Linked DNA regions of Homo sapiens. The protein of the gene in region 1 purifies or fractionates together with the protein of each later gene. This does not show direct contact. Each region holds a gene or a part of one and is shown on either strand. Other genes may lie near its edges.

What was found. Proteins that work in one complex are often made in the same cells at the same time.
Region 2: the proteins of MFN1 (region 1) and SLC25A38 purify together in Homo sapiens (affinity purification with western blotting; one study listed by BioGRID). This does not show direct contact.
Region 3: the proteins of MFN1 (region 1) and CA10 purify together in Homo sapiens (co-immunoprecipitation; one large-scale study listed by IntAct). This does not show direct contact.
Region 4: the proteins of MFN1 (region 1) and SYAP1 purify together in Homo sapiens (affinity purification with mass spectrometry; one large-scale study listed by BioGRID and IntAct). This does not show direct contact.

The regions. Positions count from the first base shown.
Region 1 is NC_000003.12:179,346,317-179,350,508, reverse strand, and holds the start of MFN1 (mitofusin-1), read right to left. Parts: upstream 2,801-4,192; 5' UTR 2,699-2,800; intron 1,665-2,698; 5' UTR 1,658-1,664; coding exon 1,546-1,657; intron 1-1,545. UniProt on the Homo sapiens protein: Mitochondrial outer membrane GTPase that mediates mitochondrial clustering and fusion. Membrane clustering requires GTPase activity. It may involve a major rearrangement of the coiled coil domains.
Region 2 is NC_000003.12:39,381,875-39,386,169, forward strand, and holds the start of SLC25A38 (mitochondrial glycine transporter), read left to right. Parts: upstream 1-1,495; 5' UTR 1,496-1,850; coding exon 1,851-1,919; intron 1,920-2,366; exon of another isoform or gene 2,367-2,451; intron 2,452-2,560; exon of another isoform or gene 2,561-4,295. UniProt on the Homo sapiens protein: Mitochondrial glycine transporter that imports glycine into the mitochondrial matrix.
Region 3 is NC_000017.11:51,634,215-51,637,714, forward strand, and holds part of CA10 (carbonic anhydrase-related protein 10 precursor), read right to left. Parts: intron 1,796-3,500; coding exon 1,641-1,795; intron 1-1,640. UniProt on the Homo sapiens protein: Does not have a catalytic activity.
Region 4 is NC_000023.11:16,761,112-16,764,611, reverse strand, and holds part of SYAP1 (synapse-associated protein 1), read right to left. Parts: 3' UTR 1-3,500.

The DNA.
Region 1 (4,192 bases):
ACAATACACATTTAACTTCATTTTCACTTCCTATTATTTTTAGAAAAAAAAATATTTTTAAAAAGTCAACTGTGCCAGCTCAAATTATTTCCTAATTGGAAACAAAGATTCTATACTACTATTTTTTTTTTCTCATTCAGCATTGAATTGTGTCAAGTCTGGTGCTAGGAATACAATGAATCCCAGGCTCCTGCCCTAAAGGAGCTCAAAATATGGTAAGAGAGGGTTGGGAGAGACATGAAAAAAAAAGTTTGATTCCCAATCTACCAAAGGTTTCCCCACTGTCGCTGGAAAAATTTACAGAATCCCTCCCTTTCCATTGTATAGTTGAGAGGTGCATAATCTTTTTTTTTTTTTGAAATGGAGTCTCACTCTGTCACCCAGGCTGGAGTGCAGTGGGCGACTTCGGTTCACTGCAACCTCTGCCTCCCAGGTTCAAGCGATTCTCCCTCCTCGAGCCTCCTGAGTAGCTAGGATTACAGGCGTCTGCCACCAGGCCCAGCTAATTTTTGTATTTTTAGTACAGACAGGGTTTCACCATGTTGATCAGGCTGGTCTTGAACTCCTAACCTCAGGTAATCTGCCGATCTTGGACTCCCAAAGTGCTGGGATTACAGGTGTGAGTCAGGGCGCCTGGCCGAGAGGTACATAATCTTAAGAACCAGAAAAAATTTCAACAGTTATCTCCAAAGAAGGATTCCTGGCCGGGTGTGGTGGCTCACACCTGTAATCCCAGCACTTTGGGAGGCCAAGAGAGGTGATCATGGGGTCAGGAGTTCGAGACCAGCCTGGCCAATATGGTGAAACCCTGTCTCTACTAAAAACACAAAAATTAGTCAGGCATGGTGGCACGTGCACTGTAGTCCCATTTACTTGGGAGGCTGAGGCAGAAGAATCGCTTGAACCCAGGAAGTGGAGGCTGCAGTGAGCCAAGAACATGCCACTGCACTCCAGCCTGGGCAACAAGACAAGACTCTGTCTCAAAAAAAAAAAAAAGAAGTATTCCCTAGTAAGACATGACATTCCTCATCACCTTTAACAGTTATGAAACTCCTTTTTCCCCCTTTCCACTGCAATTCAGCCTCATTTGAGAGAATGAGATATGTCTGAGGTCTTGGCTTAACTGCTAAATTGGGGAGGAGACAAGTATAATGGTTAAATGTGGACTGCCTGATTTTTTGTCTGGGCACTTATTAGCTGTGTGATCTTGGGCAAACTGTTTAACTTTTCTTTGACTTCGTCTCTTCATCTTTAAAATGACAGATGGTGGTGATGAAAATTAAATGAACTATTAACATAGCTATTTCTCATCACCTAGTGGTGATGAAAATTAAATGAGCTATTAATATACTAAAGTTCTTAGTTGTTATTAATACCATTTAATTTTCCCCTTCTGGAGGTTAGAAAGGGGTTTTATTCATTATGGTACTTCTCATAGTATACAGTATAATGCCCTATACATGTGTTCAATAACTAACGTTGAAAGAATAAGCACTTTTATATATTTTCAACAGTAATTACTTTAAAAACTTAAGAAGAACTAACCTTCAACAAAATGTGATCCTTCAGTAACAAACTCCAGTAACTGGTCAAAGATTGCAGTAATCGCCTTCTTAGCCAGCACAAAGTGCTTCAGTGGAGAAACAGGTTCTGCCATTATGCTACTAGAGGGAGATAAAGTTAGAAAAGCACCAACTAAAGTGGATGATAGACATGCAAACTGATGACACACCAGTGACATTCATCAACTCCCCAATGAAATAAATTATGCTGGCAAAATGTTTTTAGGTAATTCTTTTTTGGGAGTGTTCTAGTCAGACAGTTAGAGACGACTTTTGAATGATATTTCACTAAAATAAGTGAAATCTATTAGCCAAAATCTTGGTTGCAATTTCTACTCAATTTCCCTTTGGTGAAGACGAAACTAATTGTGACTAAGTTTGTCACTGCATGTGACTCTAAAGTACATCAGGGAACAGGGTTAGTGAGGCGAAGCCAAATTCACACACAATAAGGAAGTTACTAAGTTTCTCAACCTGAAGCTCTAGGTGAGTAGGAGTGGATATGCAGAGTGAGGAAATAAAATTCTAAGATCACAATGTGAGGCTGACATTTAGAAAGGTAAGGCTTCAAGAGGGCATTAACGCTTCCAGCCAAAGTACCAGAAACTTCAAGGACTATAAGTTTAAGAAAGCATAGGTGGTTTCTCAAGAAAAAGACACCAAAGACAAACAATCACGGTCTAATCCTGGTGTGTACATGGAAAGGAACAGTGGCCATAAAGAAGGCGGATTCTTCCAGAGAGTCAAGAAATGACCGCGCGAAGGAGCTGCGTGGGAAAAGCCGGGTGGGGGTAACGCCCCGGTCCGGCCGGTGTGAACACCTGCCTTAGAAAAGGCCTCCCACCTTCCCACACCGGGCGCAGGAGTCAGGGCCAGAGCCCACCCCCGCCCCGCGCACGACCGTCTAGGTCCGGATCCCCCAATCCCACCCCCGAGCACGGCCTCGTGGGCTCCGTGGGCTCGACTCGGCCGCCAGCCCCGTTCGCCCGACAGCTGGCTCTCTCCTTTCCCACAGGACCGCGGCGGGCGGCGCCTCGTCACACAACGCTGCATGCACGACTCCCGCCCCCGGTCCCCAGTCGCTCGAAGGTCACTCCGAGCGTCGCAAACGTGCTGTCGAGGCAGCCGGCACTCACAGTCTCCGCTCCAACTATCACCCGGCAACAGCAACTCGGCCACAGATGCCAAACTGCCTCATCTTCCCGAGAAGTTAAAGGCGGAGAGGAGGCAGGGGGAGTGGCAAAGGGCGGTCACTTCCGGCCTCTTGCCTCCTCTGTTCTGTTTGGCTCCGTGGCCGGAAGCGCATCTATGCCAGGCGCCATTTTCCTTAAGGGCAGAAGGCAAGGTTTGTTGTGGGCAGAGACTGCTACCAGGAGAGTGGTTTTCCGTTCCCCCTTCCAACTTCTTCCCCTCCCTTCTCCCCTCAAAGTGTCCAAGTATCTGCCCAGCCTAGGCTTAGCTAGCTTCCAATGATGGTGGTGGCTGACGCCTATAATCCCAGCACTTTGGGAGACCGAAGGGGTGGGATATCTCTTAAGCCCAGGAGTTCGAGACTAGGCTGGGCAACATAGGGAGGCGCCCCCCCCCCCGCCCCCGACCCTCTTCCTCCTCCCCGTCTCTACAAAATTAAAAAATGAAAAATTAAAAAAATTTTAAAAACTTAGCGAGGCGTGGTGGCACACACCTGTGGTCCCAGCTACTTCGGAGACTGAGGCGGGGGGATTGTTTGGGCCCGGGGCTGCAGCGAACTGTGATTTATCGTGCCACTGCACTCCAGCCTGGGCAAGAGAGCGAGACATTTTTTCAAATAAATAAATAAATAAATAAAAGAAAAGAAATCCAGATCGTATTACTTTCCGAACTTAAAAAGCTTTCCAGGCCGGGCGGGGTGGCTCACGCCTGTAATCCCAGCACTTTGGGAGGCCGAGGCGGGCGGATCACAAGGTCAGGAGATCGGGAGCATCCTGGCTAACACGGTGAACGCCCGTCTCTACTAAAAATACAAGAAGTAGCCGGGCGTGGTGGTGGCGGGCGCCTGTAGTTCCAGCTACTCAGGAGCCTGAGGCAGAGAATTGCTTGAACCCGGGAGGCGGAGGTTACAGTGAGCCGAGATCGCGCCACTGCACTCCAGCCTGGGCGACAGAGCCAGACTCCATCTCAAAAAAAAAAAAAAAAAAAAAAAAAAAAAAAAAAAAGCTTTCCAACAGCTTGCCATTATACTTAAAATTAAAGCTTCGGATGGTAACCGCCCAAGGAAAGCCTTCACCTTGCCCGCTGACTAGCCAGAACTGATACAAGACAGGGGGATTGCAAATAAAGACTTAGTCACGCAAAGCCGGCTGTATGGGAGACTGGAGTTTTATTATTACTGAAATCAGTCTCCCCGAGCAGCACTGGGGAGCAGAATTTTTAAGGACAATTTGGTGGGTTGGGGGAGGCCACTGAGCCAGGAGTGCTGATTGGTCAGGGATGAAATCGCAGGGAGTGGAAGCTGTCTTTCTGCACGAGTCAGTTCCTGGGTTGGGGGACACTAGGTCAGATGAGCCAGTTTATCGGTCTGGGTCGTGCCAGCTAATCCATCAGTTCTGAGCATAGGTAGTCTCAAAGGGAACATTTACTCTGTTTGAATT
Region 2 (4,295 bases), about 140 Mb from region 1:
GTGCATAGTTATCAACATCACTACTGCACAAAGAAAAATAAGCCTTGCAGCTTAGAACAAAGGGTAGCAAAGTATTCAATCACCAGGCAGGTTTGTAATTTTGTTTCGTTTTGTTTTTTGAGATGGAGTCTCGCTCTGTCGCCCAGGCTGCAGTGCAGTGGCACGATCTCGGCCCACTGCAAGCTCCACTTCCTGGGTTCACGCCATTCTCCTGCTTCAGCCTCCCGAGTAGCTGGGACTACAGGCGCCTGCCACCACACCCGGCTATATTTTTAGCAGAGACGGGATTTCACCATGTTAGCCAGGATGGTCTCGATCTCCTGACCTCGTGATCGGCTCGCCTCGGCCTCCCAAAGTGCTGGGATTACAGGCGTGAGCCACCGCACCCGGCCTGTAATTTTTTTTTTTTTTTTAATGTTTATACTTTCCTTAATCCTTTCTGGGAATAACCTCCTCTGGGACCACTTTCCTTCCTGTTCTATGTACCTCAGAAGCACAGGAATGAAGCCTGAAAAAATATTATCTTGCTCCCTAAGTCACTTTCCTTTCTGATCTAGTTCTTGGGTGATGAATGAAGGTGGAAAGTAGCGAAGGTTGCTATGAAAAGCTTGGACTTTATTACCAGGGCCACTGCATTTTCAACAGGAGTGTCAGGATCCCAGCAGTAATGCTTTTCCATGGATCAGCCAGACAGGCATAAGGGGAAGTTGGGAGACCAAAAAAGCCATTGACAGATTCCAGGTGAGCAATAAACCAGAATTTTGACCAACTAGACCAGCGCTGTCCTACAGAAATGTAATGGGAGCCACATGTTAAAGTTTAAATGTTTTACTAGCCACATTTAAAAAGAAACACATGAAGTTATTATTATTTGTTTTAGAGACGGGGTCTTGCTTTGTCGTCCACGCTGGTCTCCAACTCCTTGGCTCCCTCAAGCAATCCTCCAGACTAGGCCTCACAAAGTGCTGAGATTACAGGCCTGGGCCACTGCCCCCGGCCTGAAGTTAATTTTAATATTTCACCTAACCCAATATATCCAAAATATCATTTCAACATATAAAAATTATTGAGATTTTACCTCACCAGTCTTAGACATCCAGCGTGTGGTTTATGCATACAGTACATATCAATTCCACACTAAATTTTCAGCATTTAAAGGGAAATATGGTCCTGAAAAAAAAACAACAAAACAAAAAAACGCCTGTTTAAGGAGAAAGCATTCCACACTGCTTGTTTTAATATAATTAAAATTAATGTATCAATTAATAAATCAATAGCCCACGTTGGCTAGTGGCTGCCTTACTGGGCAGACCAGGTCTGGATTGTAAATACGTTCAGACGTTCCACGCAAAAGCAAAGTTCCCTGCAGACGCTCCATTAAGTTCTGGGTGCAAGGAAGCGCGGATCCTTCAGTTCTGGGCGTTTTCACCAGGTGGCACTCAGAACACCCTCACGTGACAAGCGTCCCACCCGGAAGCGAAATCTCCCCTTCTACAGAGTTCCTCCGGCGCTTCCTCCACCCCGGGATACACAGAACCTCATCTCCTACGGTGCTGAAGCCTGCAGCAGGGCAGGATGGGCAGGAGAGCAGAGCCGCGGAGTCTGCGGCGCGGGTGAAGAGCGGCGCGTAATTCCCGCAGCAAGATTGTTCCGCGCCCGCAGCCCCTGGACTAGCAGGATCCGAACCCCGGCGGCTGCGTGCTTATAGGCGCAGACGTCAGAGAGCCCGCGGCTTAAAGCGCGTCGCCTGGCTAGCGCCACCCCCTAGCCTTCTTCAAGGCCTCCAGGGCTGGGCCCAAGCGCCCGTCGACGGCACCCTGGGCCCAGAGGACTCGCGGGCCTCATCTCCAATGATTCAGAACTCACGTCCGTCGCTGCTGCAACCCCAAGATGTCGGAGACACGGTGGAAACGCTTATGGTGAGGGCACTGCGGGGAAGGAAGGGCAGGGGTCCGAACCGCGGGCTCGGGCCGGAGAATTCGGGGCGTTGCTAAGGCTCGGCTACCCTTTTCCGCGCCCCAGGGTGCGCTCAGGATTTAGGATGCGGCGGGAGAGGAGTCTGACTAAGGGAATTGAGAAGGGGGCAGGGAGTGAGGAGAGGCCAGGAGCTGCAGGCCAGCCCTGGGGGCAGGCGCTGTAGGGCCGATGTCCCGGTAAAGGGCGGAATTGCCGGGGCCTGGACTGGACGCGTGCCGGGGAGTGTGCCCGCGCGGCCCCCACAAGGTGCGAGTAGGCTGCCAGGTGGAAGGGCACCCGGGCAGATTTGGGACGGTCACAAGGCCTGATAATAGCGCTGACGCTGAGAAGCCGTTGATGCCGCAGCGAGCTGGCCGGGTAGCGCTGTGCGCCCGCGGGCGGCGGCCTACCTGGAGGGGCCAGTCGTGGCGGCACCCTTCCAGCCTGTTGGGACGGCGCGTGGTCCCCCAGCGACGCCACGCCTCCTCCGGCGTTCGATTGGTCATCGTGCCCGGGCCGCCGGGCCGCTATTGGTGGAGGCGGAGGCGGGGCTGGCGGCGTGGTTGCCCGGTAGGTGGAGTCGGGGTGCAACCAGTCTTTAGACGCTAAAGGCCTGAGGCCACTGCAGCTGCCGCAGCTCTCCCTCTGAGGTCTTGCGCCCGAGGTAGGGGCGGCTTTTATTTTTTTTTTTAATCCTTAAAGGCGGAGACGGCGGCGGTGGCGACTTTACGTTGACGTCTTTGAAAACCTGCTTACCTTTTTCAGGGCTCTCCAGCCCTCGCCTCCAGATGTGAATTGGACTTAGGATAGTTTTTTCAGGGCAGTAGGAATTGCTTGTGGATCCAGTTTGTACTCTTATGTGCTACTTATTTCGTGTGCGTATTATTGTTTATGCCCTCTTCTTTCTCCCCTTAAAAAGAAACTACTTTTTTATTTACCTTGAATATATTTTTGAGCTTTCTTTTCTTTTTTCTTTTTTTTTTTTTTTGAGACAGAGTCTCGCCCTGTCGCCCGCGCTGGAGTGCAGTGGCGTGATCTCGGCTCAACTGCAACCTCTGACTCCCGGGTTCAAGTATTTTTCCTGTCTCAGTCTCCCACGTTGCTGGGATTACAGGCGTGCGCCACCACGCCCGGCTAGTTTTTGTATTTTTAGTAGAGAGAGGGTTTCACCATGTTGGCCAGGCTGGTCTTGAACTCCTGACCTCAAGTGATCCGTCTGCCTCGGCCTCCTAAAGTGCTAGGATTACAAGTGTGAGCCACCGCGCTTGGCCTTGAGCTACTTTTTAAAAGTTAAGTTCACTCGCAAAGGATGTGTGCCATTCACCATTGACAAAAATCTTAAGACCATTCAGTATTACCTGTTGGGATGGTTTTTGTTGTTGTTGTTGTCTTGTTTTTGCCTATTAGAAGTTGATCTATACTGCTAGTATAAATAACATCTGCTCTGTGCTAATGGACTGGGAAAAGTACAAAGCTAAAAAAGTTATTGGCTCAATAACTTGAGCCAATAACATGTCTAATCACTGTGCTGTGAAATAAAAGACGTTAAGAAGATATTTCCTGCAATCAAGGGTGGGAAGGTCAAGGACAGCAGCAAATTTGTTTTAAAACAAATTCCACACAGCACCTGTGTGAGCACTGGGGAAGCAGCGCCTAACATAACTGCCCAGAAACTAACTGCAGGTCATTCCTATAGCCTTGCTGGAGCAAGGGGCCTGGAGAGAGGTGGGGGAGATTAACCCATCCTGGGATGAGTCATGCAGGGCCCACCGAGCCCTATCATGTGGGATTGTGCTCAAAGGGAGAGCATAAGGTTTCCTGTTAGGTGGTAAGATTCATTCCGCTGTCACTGCTGAACACCTACTGTGCACCAGGCTCCGAGGTCAGTTCTTGAGATATCACCATGAACAAGACAGGCAGGAGTTGTGACTATTCTGTCTTTGACACGCAGTCATAAGGGAGATGGGGACAGGTGTTGCTGTAGAAGCCGGAAGGAGAGGCACTGAACTTGGACATGGGGGAGTTAGGGAGCAAGACCGGTGCTAGGGCATAACAACATGTCAGAGTTTTCAGAGGTGAAAGTAAGGCGGAGTCCTCCAGTATGGCTGCAGAGTGTGTTAGTGGGAGGGTGAGAACATAGGCCAAAACGGTTAGCAGGAGCCCTGTGATACATGAAAGGCCCTGCAACCAGCAGTTTGGACTTTATCCTGAGAGGAATATGAACCAATTAAAGGGTATTGGTTTGGTTGGGTTTTTTAAAATTATAATTCAATTAGTATTAATGACAAATTTGTGGGATACTCTGTAGCTCCTAATACATTTGTCATTACTTGTATTTT
Region 3 (3,500 bases), on another chromosome or scaffold:
GAGAAAGCACTTCTGGGGTTCCCATTTCAGTGAATTTCTGATGTCAATTTCTGATTTTAAATTCTCTAAGATGCCCTCGTAGCTCTCAAATAAATGCTTTTTCTAAGCTTAAGTGGGGAGTTACTGTTGCCTGTCACCCAGTGGGTCCCATTCAATACAGATAGGTTAAGGAACTTCAAATTGTTCAAATGGTGGTCAGGTGGGAACACATATCCCGTCAAGGATATTGGCTTCTGCTTCCTTTGCTCATCTCTCCTTTAATTTGTTATAGACTCCCACAGTCGTAGAATGTCAGAGCTGGAGCAAACTCATGTAATTTATCCCCCTCTCAATAAAGAAGAGGAGTGTTCATTTCATAGAGGTGGGTGACAGGCCTGAAGAGCACAATAAGCCGTGTAGCCAAGCTCACACAGGAGGACCCATCTGCCTCCCATCCAGTTCTGATGAGTACTAACTCTGTGAGATGATCCAAAAAAAACACTGCACATTCAAATATGTGTGCAAAATACTACATATCATACCACTTCCTCTTGAAGACTGACACATATATTAGCATTTAAGAAGGACCCCAGAAATCCTTCAACAATGGAATCTATTTAACTTTTTAAAACCCAACTTTTTCAAATGCATAATGACATCTTCCATTTTGCTTGCTTGCTTTCTGAACACTGTAGTTGTAGAATACACTCTGGGAATTAATGGCTATCTTTTCCCACTGAGACAGTTGAGATGCTTCTATAATTAGCTCAGGCTAAGCCTTTTGGATGCTGGCTCTTTAAACCCAGGCATATGGGTTGAATCGTGTACCCCTGAAATTCATAAGCTGAAGGTACTGGTAACCCCTAGTTGCTCAGAATGTGACCTTATTTGGAAATAGTCATTGCAGATGGAATGAGCTAAGACAAGCTTATTGGGGTTAGGCTTTAATGGAATACAGAAGGTGCCTTTATAAAAAGGGGAAATTTGGACACAGAGCCTCAGACACAGGGAGAACACCTTATAAAGATGGAGGTAGAGGCTGGGTGTGGTGGCTCACGCCTGTAATCCCAGCACTTTGGGAGGTCGAGGCAAATGGATTACCTGAGGTCAGGAGTTCAAGACCAGCCTGGCCAACATGATGAAACCCCATCTCTACTAAAAGTATAAAAATTAGCCGGGCGTGGTGGCACGTGTCTGTAATCCCAGCTACTCAGGAGGCTGAGGCACAAGAATCGCTTGAACCCAGGAGGTGGAAGTTGCAGTGAGCCAAGATCACGCCACTGCACTCCAGCCTGGGTGACAAGAGCGAGACTCCATCTCAAAAAAGAAAAAAAAAAAGATGGAGGTAGAGCTTGGGGTGGTGCTTTTAAATGCCAAAGCACGTCAAAGATTGTCAGCAAACCACTAGAAGCTAGGGGAGAGGCATGGAACAGATTCTTCCTCACATTCCGCTGAAGGAAGCAACGCTGCTGACACCTTGATCTTGGACTTCTAGTCTCCAGAACTGTGAGGCGATAAGTTTGTGTTAGTTTAAACTACCCAGTTTGTGGGACTTTGTTATAGTGGTCCTAGTAAACTATTATAATAGGCACTCCACATTTCAGTGATTTTTTTTTAACATCATTCTTCTCCATTAGCTAAATGACCAGAGAGAAACTCACCTGCATCCTGGTTATATAGACAGGTTTGTTCATTATGATCCAACTTGCTGTCTCATAGCAGGGTGGGATAGTCATCGACCCATCGTAAGTGATGAAACTAGAGGTCTCTGGATATAGTTCCTCTATATTAAGCCCCTGTAGTAAATATGCATCATCTAGAGAAGGAAAGAAGACTTAAAAATTAGGTTTCTTGAGAAAGGGATGGTATTGCTGACATACATACATACATACATACATATACATATACATATACATACATATATACACACACAGATATATATGTATTTCTTTTGGAATTCCAGAAGACTCTATCTGTCAGAACAGGCTGCAGTAACAAGCAGTTGTCCCCCAGATCTCGGTTGTTTTAAGCAATAAGAATGTATTTCTTGCTCACACACATGATCATTCCAGGTTGGCTGAGGCTTCCCTCCATGTCATTGTCCATGCTTTGGGACCTAGACTCTTAGAGCAGTAAACACCTGGACCTGTGCGGATCACAGTGACAGAAGCGAAAGCATGGCGAATGTGTGTTGGTTCTTAAAACTTCCATCCCAGAAGTGGCACACATCACTTGTGCTCATGTTTTGGTAGCCAAAGAAGTCACATGGTTAAGGCTGATGTTGGGGATGCGAGGAAGCACATTCCTTCCACAGGATGGGGCCCTGAGCATTGGTGAGCTGTAAGCAATGCGTTCTACCACAGGGATTGTTTGAGGAGTCCTTGATTCTAGTCCCTGAGATCTGGACTCCTAGGCATTACAGGTATCATGAGATGGACAATTAAAGCTTCTAGACCTGTTGAAATTCACCTGGTGACCATTCTCACTTAAAACAACAATAAGAAAATATTTTTGGATAGAAAAGTAAATCAGGCCAAATCCTACCATGAGATTCTATGGTTAAGCTCAACAACTGATTATTTTGTGTGTGTGTGTGTGTGTGTGTGTGTGTGTGTGTGTATTTTTCTCTCTCTCAGGTCTATGCAGATAGCCTTTTCTCTTACACCAATTTGAGGTATTCATACCCATATATCTTCTATTACTAAATACAGTAATTCAATGGTAAAAATGACATAAGTACATCACAGACTATATGGAAAAAAGAAAAAACAATTTCAGTCATCTAAAACTGTTACTATTAGCATTTTGGTGTGTTTCCTGTTAATTTTTTTAGTCAATGTATTGGTTGTATTTTTGATAAAATTGTGTGTATTGGAGTTTTAAAATATCAGTTAATTGCAATGTATCTCTCCTCTTCTCCCCTCTTCATGATCCTTCTTCCTTTCTTTTAGCACGTGATTGTTCTCTTCTGCTGGCTTCAAAAATACCATACTTAGTATTCCCATTTTTCTGGCCATTCTCTCTCAGGTTTTGTTGCTGTCTCCTGATCTTCTACCTGCTTCTCTCAATGATGCAATTCCCCAAAGATCAGTCCAAGGCTCCCTTCTTTTCTTACTCTATCCTCTCATCTGAGAGTAGCTCATCTACATCCATGGCTTCACTTGCCTTCTGCATCCCAGTGATTCCAGATCTATATCTCTAGAGGTATCACATCCCCAGGCATACCATGAGCACCCATCACTGTGGCCAGTCCAGGAGACCTGGAGAACACATGGCAGGGTCCCAAAGCCTGGCTGGCCGAGGGATGAGACTGACTCTCCAGCCCCATGGATGCACACATGTTCTCTCGTCCATGTGTCTAACTCCCAGTGGGAAAGTACTCATTCTTCAGGGGTTGAGGGAACCTCTTCAGTTTAGTATTGTGCACATATATGGTAAAGGAAGACTTTCACATATGGCTGGAACCTCACATTGACTCAATAAAATGAGTCAGGCAGATAGTAACATCCTCCACTGACAAG
Region 4 (3,500 bases), on another chromosome or scaffold:
GGTGGGCGGATCACCTGAGGCCAGTCGTTCAAGACCAGCCTGGCCAACATGGTGAAACCCCGTCTCTACTAAAAATACAAAAATTAGCCAGGTGTGGTGGCACACGCCTGTAATCCCAGCTACTCGGGAGGCTGAGGCAGGAGAATCACTTGAACCCAGGAGGCGGAGGTTGCAGTGAGCCGAGGTTGCGGCCACTGCACTCCAGCCAGGGCAACAGAGTGAGCCTCCATCTCAAAAAAAAAAAAAAAGAAAAAAAAAAAAGTTGAAAAACTAAATTTGCTAAAATTAAATGTGCCTAATTTTCCTAATTAAAAAATGTTTATCTTTACTTAAAAATGGAGGGGGGTATCTATTACTAGAAAGAGTAACTATATAAAATTATTTGAATTATTGATGCACATTCAGAGTCCTGGTTTTTAATACCAAAAAGCCATTAAGGTTGGGCGCAGTGGCTCACGCCTGTAATCCCAGCACTTTGGGAGGCCGAGGCGGGCGGATCACCTGAGGTTGGGAGTTCAAGACCAGCCTGACCAACATGGCGAAACCCTGTCTCTACTAAAAATACAAAAATTAGCCGGGTGTGGTGGCACATGCCTATAATCCCAGCTACTAGGGAGGCTGAGGCAGGAGAACTGCCTGAACCCGGGAGCCGGAGGTTTGCAGTGAGCTGAGACTGCGCCATTGCATTCCAGCCCAGGCAACAGTGTGAGACTCTGTCTCAAAAAAAAAAAAAAAAAAAAAGCCGTCAAAGAGGCAAATAAAATACTGCAAGTCAGACATAATCATAAGATTTCTGCTGAAACCTTTTAAATGTCCTGAAATCCTATTTTTAACAATATTTTGATTAAAGCAAATCATCTTGATTACAATAGTGCATCTTAAATCACTGGGAGTACAAGTGTAATTGCTGCTTTATCTCTGAAACAATGTTTCTCTAGTTTTTTTTTCAAAAATTACCAATTAAGGCTGTGGCTCATGCCTGTAATCCCAACACTTTGGGAGGTCAAGGCGTGCGGATCATTTGAGATCAGGAGCTTGAGACCAGCCTGGCCAACACGGTGAAACCCCATCTCTGCTAAAAATACAAAAAAATTAGCTGGGCATGGTGGCGGTTGCCTGTAATCCCAGCTACTCTGGAGGCTGAGGTGGGAGAATCGCTTGAACTTGGGAGGCGGAGGTTGCCGTGAGCTGAGATCAAGCCACTGCACTCCAGCCTGGGTGACAGAGCAAGATTCTGTCTCCAAGAAAAAAAAACAAACAAAAAAAGAAATGCCCGATTTACCAAGAATATTTCTCATCCCCCTAAAAACTTGCCCCCCCTCCCTTTTTTGAAACAGAGTCTCTGTCACCCAGGCTGAAGTGCAGTGGCATGATCATGGCTTACTGCAGCCTGGATCTCCTGGGCTCAAGCGATCCTCCTGCCTCAGCCTTCCAAGTAGCTAGGACCACAGGTGTGGGCTACCACACCTGGCTCATTTGTATTTTTGTAGAGGCAGGGGTCTCCCTATGTTGCCCAGGCTGGTCTTGAACTCCTGAGCTCAAGCAATCTGCCTGCCTCAGCCTCCCAAAGTGCTGGGATTACAGGTGTGAACCACCATGCCCAGCCCTTGGGTCTTTTTAATTTTGGTAGTATAGAAATAACTGGAACCTCAGAGGAGACACCTGTAATGCCAACTAGAAAAACACTGCTGCAAAGGACATCTAGTGGAAGGGTAAAAAGTAAAAAGCAGTAGAAACCTCAGCTTCCCTGAGAGCATATTAGACCAGTGCTTCCCAAACTGTAAATAAAGTCCATTCTCATCCCCTGGGCGTTCTTAGTAACATCAACTGGTCTGGGGCAGGCATTTCCAACATACTGCCAGGGCATGGCCAAGCTACACTGGTTCCTGAGCCACACTCTTTGAGTAGTGAGGCATAATCTCCATAGTGTGATGTTCATATTTTAGCATTTTATTAAGTTTTACAGGTTTTCATGCTTGGTATATCTTGTTGGCTAACCCCTAGGCATGTAATAAATACTTAGAAATTTTCCACCAAACATGGTGATAAATTATTTTGCTCTTTAAAGGAATAACACTTCAGTTACCTATATAATTTACTAAAGCAGAACATTTTACTCCTTGATGAATCCATAAAAATACAGCACAACTGTATTCTTACAGTATGTACAAAATCTTATTTTATCCTTTTATTTTCACAGGCAATGCATAATTAGGTTGTTTTTAAATGAGATATTATGTAAAATTGATAGCAATAACTGTCACACACCTCTATTGCCATTGTAGGGTTTTTCTCTTTCTCTGATACTTTTTTGTGTGTGTTTATTCAACATTTATCAATAAGAATTTTAGTGCATTCACTAAGAGCCAAGCACCGACACATCCTGATATGCTTCCATCTAGGACTTTTAGCTGCTTAAAAACATTTAACATGCTTCTTTTCCTCCAGCAAACTCTTTTAAAAAAAAAATGAAACTCTTTCCTTCAATGAGATTATTTCAGAAGTTGCCAGTCATCTTGGAACCCAAACTCAGTAATAAGCAACTGTGGCACCACAAGTGGAAACCTTTTGATGATGGGCCCAGTGGTTTCATGGAATACACGGGTTTACTGCTATAACCCAAGAGACTCCAGTTGAGACAGTCTGGCTCAGACACATGCATCCACAACTATGAACAGGAGTAATGCCTGGACTCATACCCAGTTCTCTTGTTGACTATATCTTTGCCAAAGGACTACTGACTAGTTTTAATGGGGCCAAGAACACAAATATGTATATTTTTCTTATAAAGAAACATTTTAATTCTATTCCCCTTTATGTAATAAAGGCTTCTTGAAAAACATGAAAGGTTTGGGGAGCAAATGCTTAGGAAGTTTTCTGACATTAAACCACCTTGTTCGTTCGTTCATTCATTCATTCATTCATTCATTCATTTTTGAGACGGAGTCTCTCACTCTGTCACCCAGGCTGGAGTGCAGTGGCGTGATCTCAGCTCACTGCAACCTCCATCTCCCAGGTTCAAGCAATTCTCCTGCCTCAGCCTCCTCACCTTGTTCTTTAAAAATAATCATATTCTATGAATATGTGTCTGCTGGTATAGCAGAAAGAGAAGGATTAATCAATAAAGTCCTAGAAGGTGAACTCGGAGGAACACAATTTTATGAAGACTCACAGTTTAAGACAAAGCTAAAACATTTATATGTGGTGATGATTAAAACAAGAACAACAGACTTTAAGGGGAATGGGCTTCTGAAGGTTATTGTAATACAAAAAGTATGGAAGGTCCCACTTTGTATAAAAACTGTGATGTAAAATTTCTGGTATAGTTTAAAAAGAAAAGAAAGAAAAGGCCCCAGAGAAAAACAAATATTTTCGCACAGCTTTTTTTTTTTTTTTTTTTTGAGACTGAATCTCACTCTATCACCCAGGCTGGAGTGCAGTGGCGCGATCTCAGCTCGCTGCAACCTCTGCCTCCTGGGTTCAAAAGCCTCCCTAGTAGC